Linked DNA regions of Homo sapiens: region 1 is linked to region 2. Evidence: fine-mapped expression QTL. A gene starts in region 2. The other region holds a variant in brackets. All regions are shown on one strand. Distances are from middle to middle. Region 1 overlaps STAT5B (signal transducer and activator of transcription 5B). Region 2 holds the start of NAGLU (N-acetyl-alpha-glucosaminidase).

Evidence for each region. PIP is the estimated chance that this variant, and not a neighbour inherited with it, causes the effect.
Region 1: its variant is fine-mapped to the expression of NAGLU in fibroblasts (GTEx, PIP 0.98).

Annotation. Positions count from the first base shown.
Region 1 is chr17:42,217,176-42,222,541 of GRCh38, forward strand. STAT5B (signal transducer and activator of transcription 5B) reads right to left here. Exons shown (of 19, transcript NM_012448.4): 6 at 2,537-2,667; 7 at 2,137-2,288; 8 at 1,548-1,703; 9 at 976-1,155; 10 at 202-289; 11 at 1-107. Among named protein-coding and RNA genes, the nearest start is that of GHDC, 25 kb to the left of the region's middle. The variant A/G (reference allele first, on the strand shown) is at 3,340.
Region 2 is chr17:42,532,839-42,538,167 of GRCh38, forward strand. It overlaps NAGLU (N-acetyl-alpha-glucosaminidase), which reads left to right and starts at 3,403. Exons shown (of 6, transcript NM_000263.4): 1 at 3,403-3,817; 2 at 4,560-4,707. The coding sequence starts at 3,435. It also overlaps the pseudogene PTP4A2P1. RefSeq lists enhancers at 3,116-3,195, 3,709-4,446 and silencers at 3,306-3,715, 3,836-3,905.

The DNA.
Region 1 (5,366 bases), 320 kb before region 2:
AGCTCATTTCCACCAACACTGAACTGGGATTCAAACAGGATTGTAAATTTTTCTTCTGTCACCGACTCTGCCCCACGACGGTCTGACCTCTTAATTCGTTTCAGGGACTACAAAGAAGAAACATAAGATGAAACGTAAGATATAAGTTGTTCCCCTCAAAGACCAGGGAAAAATTCATTCTTCCTCTTCTTCCACCCTCACCATATTCCTGAAGTGGGCACTAAGGGTGCCTGTGGCTTGGTGGTACTCCATGACGCAGCAGTTGTTCAAGATCTCGCCACTGTAATCACTGCAAATCAGAGAGAGACCAGCTCCAAACCCATGCCAGGGTCTCAGGACATGCGGAGTAAATAATATAATTTGGGGTAGCAGGAAATAGAGAAGTTTGCTAAAAATGTACGTCATTTAGAGGAAATGTTAGCTACATAACACATACATGTAATCTTCTCGGACGTATCTCTACAAAATGAAACAAGATCAAACTATCTTCACAGAAAACAGTTCCTAAGAGAACTTTTTTTTTTTTTTTTGTGACGGAGTTTTGCTCTTGTTGCCCAGGCTGGAGTGCAGTGGCGTGATCTCAGCTCACTGCAATCTCAGCTCACTGCAATCTCTGCCTCCCAGGTTCAAGGGATTCTCCTGCCTCAGGCTCTCTAGTGGCTGGGATTACAGGTGCCTGCCACCACGCCCGGCTAATTTTTTGTATTTTTAGTAGAGACAGGGTTTCACCATGTTGGCCAGGCTGGTCTTGAACTCCTGACCTCAGGTGATCTGCCCACCTCGGCCTCTTAAAGTGCTTGGATTACAGGTGTGAGCCACCACACCAGGCCCAAGAACTTCCTTATATTCCTTTGCTGATGCCCAGAAGAGGCCAGAAGGGCAAACAGGGATCTGACACAGGAGGCAGAATTCTTTTTTTCCTGTTGCCAGGACATGAGACAAGTAGCAGGGAATGAGAGGAAGCTGCACAATTACTTGCGGGTGTTCTCGTTCTTGAGCAGAGACTTGGCCTGCTGCTCACTGATGATGGTGGCCTTCACCTGGGGGGGGTTCATGTGCACGTTCAGCTTCCCGCCCACCAGCAGGCGCACAGTGGCTGCAAACTTGGTCTGGGTCTTCAGGACCTGAGGAGGCTGCTTCTCAATGATGAACGTGCTGCAGGGGACACAGGGACAGATGCATGATGAGGGGCTGGTGCAGGGGAAAGGGCTCTCAGTCCCTCTGTGGTGGGGGTGGGGCTGCCTCCCGAGGGGCTCAGGAGGTGAAGAGCTCGGGCACAGCCTCTGTTCCTGGGGAAGCCGTGAGAGTCCAGGGAGAGGATGGAGAGGGGAGTGAGATAACACAGAAGCTGGCATGGGCTGCAGCCCAAGGGCATCTCTTGCAGTGTCCACAGGAGAAACTGGGCAAGGGCCACAGCAACTGGAGATGGAGTTGGGAGGGATGAGAGGCAGGAAGTGGATCTGCTGGTCTGGAAGGCACCTGCGGCTCCCCCCACGCAGGCAGGAGCTGCCCCAAGCTCCTGGGCATGGCAAACAGGCAGCAGTCACCTGGTCACCAGGGCTGAGATAATGTCCGTGATGGTGGCGTTGACCTCGGCCAGCATCTCCTCCACTGGGCCGGGGATGGGCAGCTGCTGGCAGAGGTGCTCAGCCCTGCGGATCTGCTGCCGGTTCTGCCAGATGATCTCGGCCAACTTCTCACACCTGCACGAGAGCCCCAAGGCCAACAGGAGGACAATGGCTCCTCCGCACAGACGCCAGGCCCCAAGACACAGCTCCCGTTCCCCCAGGAAGGCTCTGTGCTTTCGCCACACTTCCCACCCATGGGAAGAGCAGAGCTCCCTGCCTCCCAGAATTAGAGACGTACACAGGAGGGGCGACCCTGACTAGGCCCAAACAGCCCAAGCATCACCCCACACACCCGAACCCTGTCCCATCTCCAGGACAGCAGCCCCCTTCCTGGGGGAGGTGCACAGGATGGGGGCCAAAGTCTGATTGAGGAACCAGGCTCCCTGGAGAAACAAGAGCTGTCCCAGGATGGAGGGGGCCTGCTGCAGGAGCCAGCACAGGACGCAGAAGCAGCCGGGATCCCCACCAGCCCCTCCTGCCCTGCCCGCTGGCCGCCCCACACCATTACCAGGACTGTAGCACGTCCAGGCTGCCCTCGGGGGGCCCGCCGTTCCCGGCCAGCTGCTGCCGCCGCTTCCACTGGATCAGCTCGTCATCCAGGATGATGGTCTGCTGCTTCCGCAGCAGCTGCAGGGTCTTCTGGTGCTTCTCGGCCAGCTCCTGAGGGAAGGGAGGAGAGCAGCCCCTTCTGGGCTCCCAGAGAACACCGCAGGGCCTCGCTGGGAAATGGCAGGGCAGGGCCCAGGCCGTTCCCTCTCCCCAAGCTGCTCTGCCTCGCAAGGCCCCCAGGAAAAAAGGCCTCCTGCCCTCCCAGGTTCTGCTCTCATGCTGGTCCCAGCCCTCCCTCGGGTCCCCAGAGACTGACTTCATGGCACCCACGCCCAGGAGAGGCCCAGGACCCCACTCACCACGCGGTACTGCTGCAGTGTCTGTGCCTCACGCTGCAACCAGGCCTCCAGAGACACCTGCTTCTGCTGGAGGGCCGTCTCCCGGCTCAGACGCTCCTGGGGGCTCAGCTGGGCCAGCGGGCCAAACTGAGCTAGAGGAGGGGAGAGGAAACCATGACCATCACCTCCCAGTGTCCAACAGGAGGCCCAGAGAAGCCCACTCACCCGTTCTGGAGCGAGACCCTCCTGGGCTCAGATACTGCATTAAGGGCAAGTCGGGGTTCCTGACAGCCAGGGGGGCCAAGATGAATGGGTGCCCCAGGAGGCGCCTCTGGGCCCTGCTCGCCAGCCTCCTGACTCTGAGCCGTCCCCTCTGGGGGCACACGGGTGCTGGGGCAGCTGGGGAGGAGGCCTGCCTGCCTCCTGCCCGCCTGCCTCACAGGGCTGCCAGCCCTCTTCTCGCGGCCCAGCATGGGTCCAGGCTGTCTGGGGTGTAAGTGTGCCCATGCCCTTGACTGCAGGTGAACCTGGGCAAATCGCTTTCCTTTCCTGTGCCTTGGCTTCCCCACGTGTAAAACGGGAGATTCTCGGCACCTGCCTCAGTGGGGTGCATTAAGATTAAATACATGAGGACATGGAAGATGCCAGAAAGCTGCCTGACATGGGTGAGCTCTGTGTGAGGTTCGTGCTTCTTGGTTAACGGGGAACAGGACAGAGAGAAGAGGTGACAGAGACAAGCAGCTGCTCGGCCCCATCCCTCCCGCAGCAAGGCCTCTTCAGGGAAACCCAGCCCCGGCGGCTCTGTCTAGTCCCTGAGCACAGCA[A/G]TCCCTCCTCAGGGGAGGATGAGATTCTTGAGAGGCTGGAAGGGGCCCAGCATGTTTGTCCAGGTGAGCTCACTGTGAACCCAGCCAACCAACCAGGGAACACGGACAGACAGACAGACCGCAGAGGGAGAGCATGTCCAGGGCCACTGGGGATGCAGAGCCACCAAGATTCTCTCAGGAAAGGGAGGCCGAAGGGAGGCGGCTTCCCTCCACACCATCTGTGAGGAGTCTCATTGATGGCGGGACAGGGAGTAAGTTAGGCCTCATTACCTTTTAAAAATTATTATGAAATAGGTAAGACACAGGGAACGTGGAACACAGGAGCACCTGTGTATCAATAACCCAGGCTAAGAAAGTAAACATGTCCACAGTTACAACCACCACCGCAGGCCCACCCCACCCTCCCAGCGACAGCCCGTCTCCACCACACTGGGACTATTAATCCCTTCCCATCACCTTCTCAACAGCCCAGAGTCCTTGCTTGAGCTGAGTCAGAAGATGCGCGCACCAGCATGTCTTGGTCGAGCTCCTGGCTGGCCCCTGAGGGCCACGTCACTCTGACCCCAGCCCTGACCCATGGGATGCACAAGCTGGGACAGACAAAAGCAACTCTATGTAGCCAGGAACAGCCCAGAGCTAGAACTCAGAAATATGGCTCCAATCTCACTGCAGGTATCGAGCAGGAAGAGGATCATCCAGGGACGGACAGATCCAAGGTATCTGCACGGCTACCTCAGGAATCCTGCCCAGCCACAGGGAGGGTGGTGGTGATCCCAACACCTGGGCCCAGCCTTCCTATGCAAGGGACCCACTTAGGGCTCTCCTGGAAATTTGCAGAAGCTTTTGGGAAGGAGGCCAGGGAGACGGGAAGCAATTTCCCTACTCCACTGGAGGCAGCTGAGCCTTCCCTGGCAAAAGCAGATCAATAGTCTGTGTTTCTGCTGAGTGAACTTGACAAATGGGACTGAGAAGACACTGCGTGATAGATCCAAACCCAACCTGAATCCAAACCTAATCCGCCACCATGCACAGGAAACAGAAAAGCCAGGCACGGGATCAGAAATACTGTTGACAGTCTAAGGACTTGGGTAGGAATAGCCATCCCAAATCTTCCGTTTCCATTCTCTGAAGGAGCTGCCCTTCTTCTAGGGCCAGTCTAGGATGGATTCAGATAAAAAAGGAAGACAGGCTAGAATCATCCTGTCAACCTTTACTCAATAACTGTTATGTTTCAGGCATTGTGCTGGCCTCAGGGTACAGAGATAAAAGATATAGTCCCTTCTCAAAGATTTATATTCCAGTGGAGAAGATAAAGAGTAAATAAGTAGTATCACTATAGACATAAAATGGAACCTACATACATGGAATTAGAGGAGCATGTGCTGTGTGTGTGTGTGTGTGCTGTGTGTCTATGTGTGTGTGGTGTGTATGTGTGGTGTGTGTGTGTGCTATGTGTGGTGTGTGTGTGCTGTGTGTGGTGTGGTGTGTGTGTGCTGTGTGTGGTGTGGTGTGTGTGGTGTGGTGTGTGTGTGCTGTGTGTCTGTGTGTGTGCTGTGTGTGGTGTGTGTGTGCTGTGTGTGTGCACTGTGTGTCTCTGTGTGCTGTGGGGGGTGTGTGTGCTGTGTGTGTGTGTGCTGTGTGTGTGATGTGTGTGGTGTGTGTGTGTGCTGTGTTGTCTGTGTGTGCTGTGTGTGTGTGTGTTTGGAGGGGCTGGGTGGTTGAGCCAAGGCTTCTCTGAGACTGAGCTGGGCATGGAAGCAGAGAGGAAACTATTAAAGCTCAAACTGCCAAACTGCTACAGGGTCAAAAGGGGGCGCTGGTGGGGCTCCACAGCCTCACCACAGACTGAAGCTCTCTGTGCCCCAACTACTAAGCAGGATTTATACCAGGCTAGGGAAGCTCTGTCCATAAGGGCTACCTAAGGGGCGTTAAGTGTACTCTGTTTCAGGAAGACCTCTGTGAATAACTGCATAGAACATTAGAAATCATATACAGGTCCTTAGTACTTACACGTACCTGCTTAGAAA
Region 2 (5,329 bases):
AGAGAGAGTTTCCCTCTGTCGCCCAGGCTAGAGTGCAATGGCGCAATCTCGGCTCACTGCAAGCTCTGCCTCCCGGGTTCAGGCCATTCTCCTGCTTCAGCCTCCTGAGCAGCTGGGACTACAGACGCCCGTCACTGCGCCCGGCTAATTTTTTGTGTTTTTAGTAGAGACGGGGTTTCACCGTGTTAGCCAGGATGGTCTCGATTTCCTGACCTCGTGATCCGCCCGCCTCGGCCTCCCAAAGTGCTGGGATTACAGGCGTGAGCCACCGCGTCCGGCCAGCTTTTTTTTTTTAATTGCAAGCATATTTCTTTGAATGACTCCAGTAAAATTAAGCATCAAGTAAACAAGTGGAAAGTGACCTACACTTTTAACTTGTCTCACTAGTGCCTAAATGTAGTAAAGGCTGCTTCAGTTTTGTATGTAGTTGGGTTTTTTGGAGTCCGAAGGTATCCATCTGCAGAAATTGAGGCCCAAATTGAATTTGGATTCAAGTGGATTCTAAATACTTTGCTTATCTTGAAGAGAGAAGCTTCATAAGGAATAAACAAGTTGAATAGAGAAAACACTGATTGATAATAGGCATTTTCATGGTCTTTTTAATGTTTTCTGTTGTTAAACATTTCAAGATTTATTGATTTTTTTTTTCACTTTCCCCATCACACTCACAGGCACGCTCACACTTTTTATTTGCCGTAATGAACCGTCTAGCCCCTGTGGAGATCTCCTATGAGAACATGTGTTTTCTGATAACTCACAACCCTACCAATGCTACTCTCAACAAGTTCACAGAGGAACTTAAGAAGTATGGAGTGACGACTTCGGTTTGAGTTTGTGATGCTACATATGATAAAGCTCCAGTTGAAAAAGAAGGAATCCACGTTCTAGATTGGCCATTTGATGATGGAGCTCCATCCCCTAATCAGATAGTAGATGATTGGTTAAACCTGTTAAACACCAAATTTCGTGAAGAGCCAGGTTGCTGTGTTGCAGTGCATTGCGTTGTGGAATTGGGAAGGGCACCTGTGCTGGTTGCACTTGCTTTGATTGAATGTGGAATGAAGTACGTAGATGCAGTTCAGTTTATAAGACAAAAAAGAAGGGGAGTGTTAAATTCCAAACAGCTGCTTTACTTAAGATGCGATTACGCTTCAGAGATACCAATGGGCATTGCTGTGTTCAGCAGAAAGAAATGTAAATGAAGGCTGACTTGATTGTGGCATTTAGAGGGAACTCCTGGTACCTGGAAATGTGAATCTGGACTCTTACCTGTGTCATCAAAGTAGTGATGGATTCAATACTCCTCAACCACTCTCCTAATGATCAGAACAAAAGCAAACAAGAAATCTCTCTATAAAATGAATAAAATGTTTAAGAAAAAAAAAGAGTTCGAGACCAGCCTGGACAACATGGTGAAATCCCATCCCTACAAAGGTTAACTGGGCTTGGTGGCACGTGCCTGTAATCCCAGCTACTCAGGAGACTGAGACAGGAGAATGGCTTGAACCTGGGTGGCTGAGGTTCCCGTGAGCTGAGATTAAAAAAAAAAATCATACTTCCCTAGTATCTAAAGTTGATATCTGATTCCAGGCCTCTTTCAACTTTTTTTGTTTGTTTGTTTGTTTTTTTGATATGGAGTCTCGCTCTGTCATCCAGGCTGGAATGCAAATGGCACGATCTTGGCTCACTGCAACTTCCACCTCCAGCGTTCAAGCGATTCTCCTGCCTCAGCTTCCCAAGTAGCTGGGACTACAGGCGTGTGCCACCAAGCCTGGCTAACTTTTTTTCTTTTTTTTTTTTTTGAGAGGGAGTCTTGCTCTGTCCCCCAGGCTGGAGTGCAGTGGTGTGATCTTGGCTCACTGCAACCTCCGCCTCTCCGGTTCACGCCATTCTCCTGCCTTAGCCTCCCGAGTAGCTGGGAGTACAGGCGCTCGCCAACACGCCCGGCTAATTTTTTGTATTTTTAGTAGAGATGGAGTTTCACCGTGTTAGCCAGGAGGGTCTTGATCTCCTGACCTCGTATCCGCCCGTCTTGGCCTCCCAAAGTGCTGGGATTACAGGCGTGAGCCACCGCGCCCAGCACCTGGCTAACTTTTGTATTTTTAGTACAGACGGGGTTTCACTGTATGTTGGCCAGGCTGGTCTCAAACCCCTGACTTGAGGTGATCTGCAAGCCTCAGCCTCCCAGAGTGCTGGGATTACAGGCGTAAGCCACCGCTCCTGGCCTAAGGTTGGCTATTTTTATGGTTATTTCTTGATTATATGATAAACAAGGGGTGGGTTAGTAATGAATTTTTCAGAAAAGGGGTGGGGATCCCCCCCAACTGAAGGTTCCTCCACTGTTTAGACCATATAGGGTAACTTCTGGACGTTGCCATGGCATTTGTAAACTGCCTGGCGCTGCTAGGAGTGTCTTTAGCATACTAATGCATTATAATTAGCGTATAATGAGCAGTGAGGACGATCAGAGGTCACCTTCCTGTCTTGGTTTTGGCAGGTTTTGACCAGTTTCTTTGCTGCATTCTGTTTTATCAGCGGGGTCTTGTGACCTTTTATCTTGTGCTGACCTCCTGTCTCATCCTGTGACGAAGGCCTAACCTCCTGGGAATTCAGCCCAGCAGGTCTCTGCCTCATTTTACCCAGCCCCTGTTCAAGATGGAGTCGCTCTGGTTGGAAACTTCTGACAAAATGACAGCTCCTGTTATGTTGCTGCTGCTGCCGCCAATGGACAGCCTTTAACGTGCCCGCCAGCCCTGCTCCACCGCCGGCCTGGGCTCACATGGCCCCATCCCTCCTCGAACCTCCTAGCCTGTTAGTTACTCAAATCTGCAAGCTCTCTGCCTTCTCAGGGCCTTCAATAAATGCATTTCTTCTGTCTGGAAGGCTCTTCCTTTCCCTCTTCTAGCCAATTCCTATTCATCCCTGAGTTTCAGATTAAAAGTCACTTCCTTTGGAAACCTTACTTCGCTACTTCGCTACTTACTGCACTACTTCGCAGCATCACAACTATGATGGAAATCCTTACTTACGTTAAATATCTGGTTTCTAGGTCACCTCCCTGACGGGGACGGTAGGGACCGTCTTCTCGTTCATCAGTAGGGAAGTAGCTATGGCAGTGCCTGATACAAAATAAACTCCAAATGTGTATTTATTAGATGGTTGGATGGAAGTTATTTGCGTGTGAAAGCGCGTTTTACCCGAAGGCGCTCTGTGAGGGCCAGCGGGTCCCCTTCGGCCCTGGAGCCGGGGTCACACGCTCCCCACCGCGTGCGGTCACGAGACGCCCCCAAGGGAGTATCCTGGTACCCGGAAGCCGCGACTCCTGGCCCTGAGCCCGGGCTTAGCCTTCGGGTCCACGTGGCCGGAGGCCGGCAGCTGATTGGACGCGGGCCGCCCCACCCCCTGGCCGTCGCGGGACCCGCAGGACTGAGACCATGGAGGCGGTGGCGGTGGCCGCGGCGGTGGGGGTCCTTCTCCTGGCCGGGGCCGGGGGCGCGGCAGGCGACGAGGCCCGGGAGGCGGCGGCCGTGCGGGCGCTCGTGGCCCGGCTGCTGGGGCCAGGCCCCGCGGCCGACTTCTCCGTGTCGGTGGAGCGCGCTCTGGCTGCCAAGCCGGGCTTGGACACCTACAGCCTGGGCGGCGGCGGCGCGGCGCGCGTGCGGGTGCGCGGCTCCACGGGCGTGGCGGCCGCCGCGGGGCTGCACCGCTACCTGCGCGACTTCTGTGGCTGCCACGTGGCCTGGTCCGGCTCTCAGCTGCGCCTGCCGCGGCCACTGCCAGCCGTGCCGGGGGAGCTGACCGAGGCCACGCCCAACAGGTACCGCCCCGAAGCTTCCCCGCGTCCGCCCGAGGCGCTTACCCCCTCCCGGAGCCGCTGCCACCCAAATCGGGAGGCTGAGCGGGGAGCGCTGGCCGGAAGGCCCAGCTGCGCCGCCTCCAGCAGCTGTGTGGCCTTGAGCCAGCCACTCTGCCTTTCAGAGCCTCGGCTGGCCCACCTGAAAAACGGAAAGAAGACGCCTACCGTGCAGTGTTATTGTGAGGATTTGCACGATGATGGGCATAGAATTTGTGGTGCACAATTGGTGATGAGTGAATTTTCTTGCCTTCCTCCCCCACCTTCTCTTTGAACCTGCGGACTGAGGAAGGACGCCTCCATCCCCCACCCTACAGGCCTGTGTTCCAGCGCCTGCCACACTATGGAGTGATGTGTTCACACAGCTGTCCTCCCCTGCCCATCTGTTAGACTGTGGGGGCAGGGATTCCCCGTTCCAGGAAAACACCGTGCAGAGGAGGGGCTCTGGCAGTGTGGCATGAAAGTGGAATATGCCACCCAAATACCCGCCAGGCTAGAGGGCCCTGGGAGAGTGCAGGGGACGAGTGCCTCAGAAGCCCAGCCCCGGTACCTGGTCTCAGCTCCACCTGGGGTGGGTCCCAGTGTGCAGCAGAAGGGCCGAGTTTGGAGCCCCTCCCCTCTCCTCTAGGTGGGGGATGGGGGATTTGTTCCAGGGCCGTGGACCCTCCAGGGTGGGATGCGCCCCTGCTCATGACACTGCCCGCAGGTACCGCTATTACCAGAATGTGTGCACGCAAAGCTACTCTTTCGTGTGGTGGGACTGGGCCCGCTGGGAGCGAGAGATAGACTGGATGGCGCTGAATGGCATCAACCTGGCACTGGCCTGGAGCGGCCAGGAGGCCATCTGGCAGCGGGTGCGTGCCCACTGTCCCTTCCCCACCCTCCTCTATGGCGGGAGCCACCGTAGGTGTTTTCACCCGCCCCCCAGCATGGGCGCAGTGTCTCTCTCTAGAAGTGCTTTCAGCGTGCACAGTGGCTTGGGCCTCCTAAAAACTGAGGCTTCCGGCCGGGCGCGGTGGCTCACGCCTGTCATCCCAGCACTTCGGGAGGCCTAGGCGGGCGGATCAGGAGTTCAGGAGATCGAGACCATCCTGGCCAACATTGTGAAACCCCGTCTCTACTAAAATACAAAGAAATAGCAACCTGGGCAACAGAGCGAGACTCTGTCTAAAAAAAAAAAAAAAAAAAACTGAGGCTTCCAGTTTGAGGAGTGGGGCTCCTTCCCCCATCTCCCCTATGCAGCCAATCACCTGGTCCCTTGGATCCAACTCATGGGCAGCTCTAGATCTGCCTCCCTGGAAGCTTCTGTGCTGCAATGGCTGCTCCAGGCTCTGCTTAAGCTCTTCACACAGTTGCCCTGCCCTTCCATCTGGCACTCTTGCTCCATGAAGCCTTCTAAGGCCTTCCTGTTGGGGGAAAGCCCCTTTGTGCCCCATCTCCTCACCCATGCGACAAAGGCAACACAGTGAACTCACC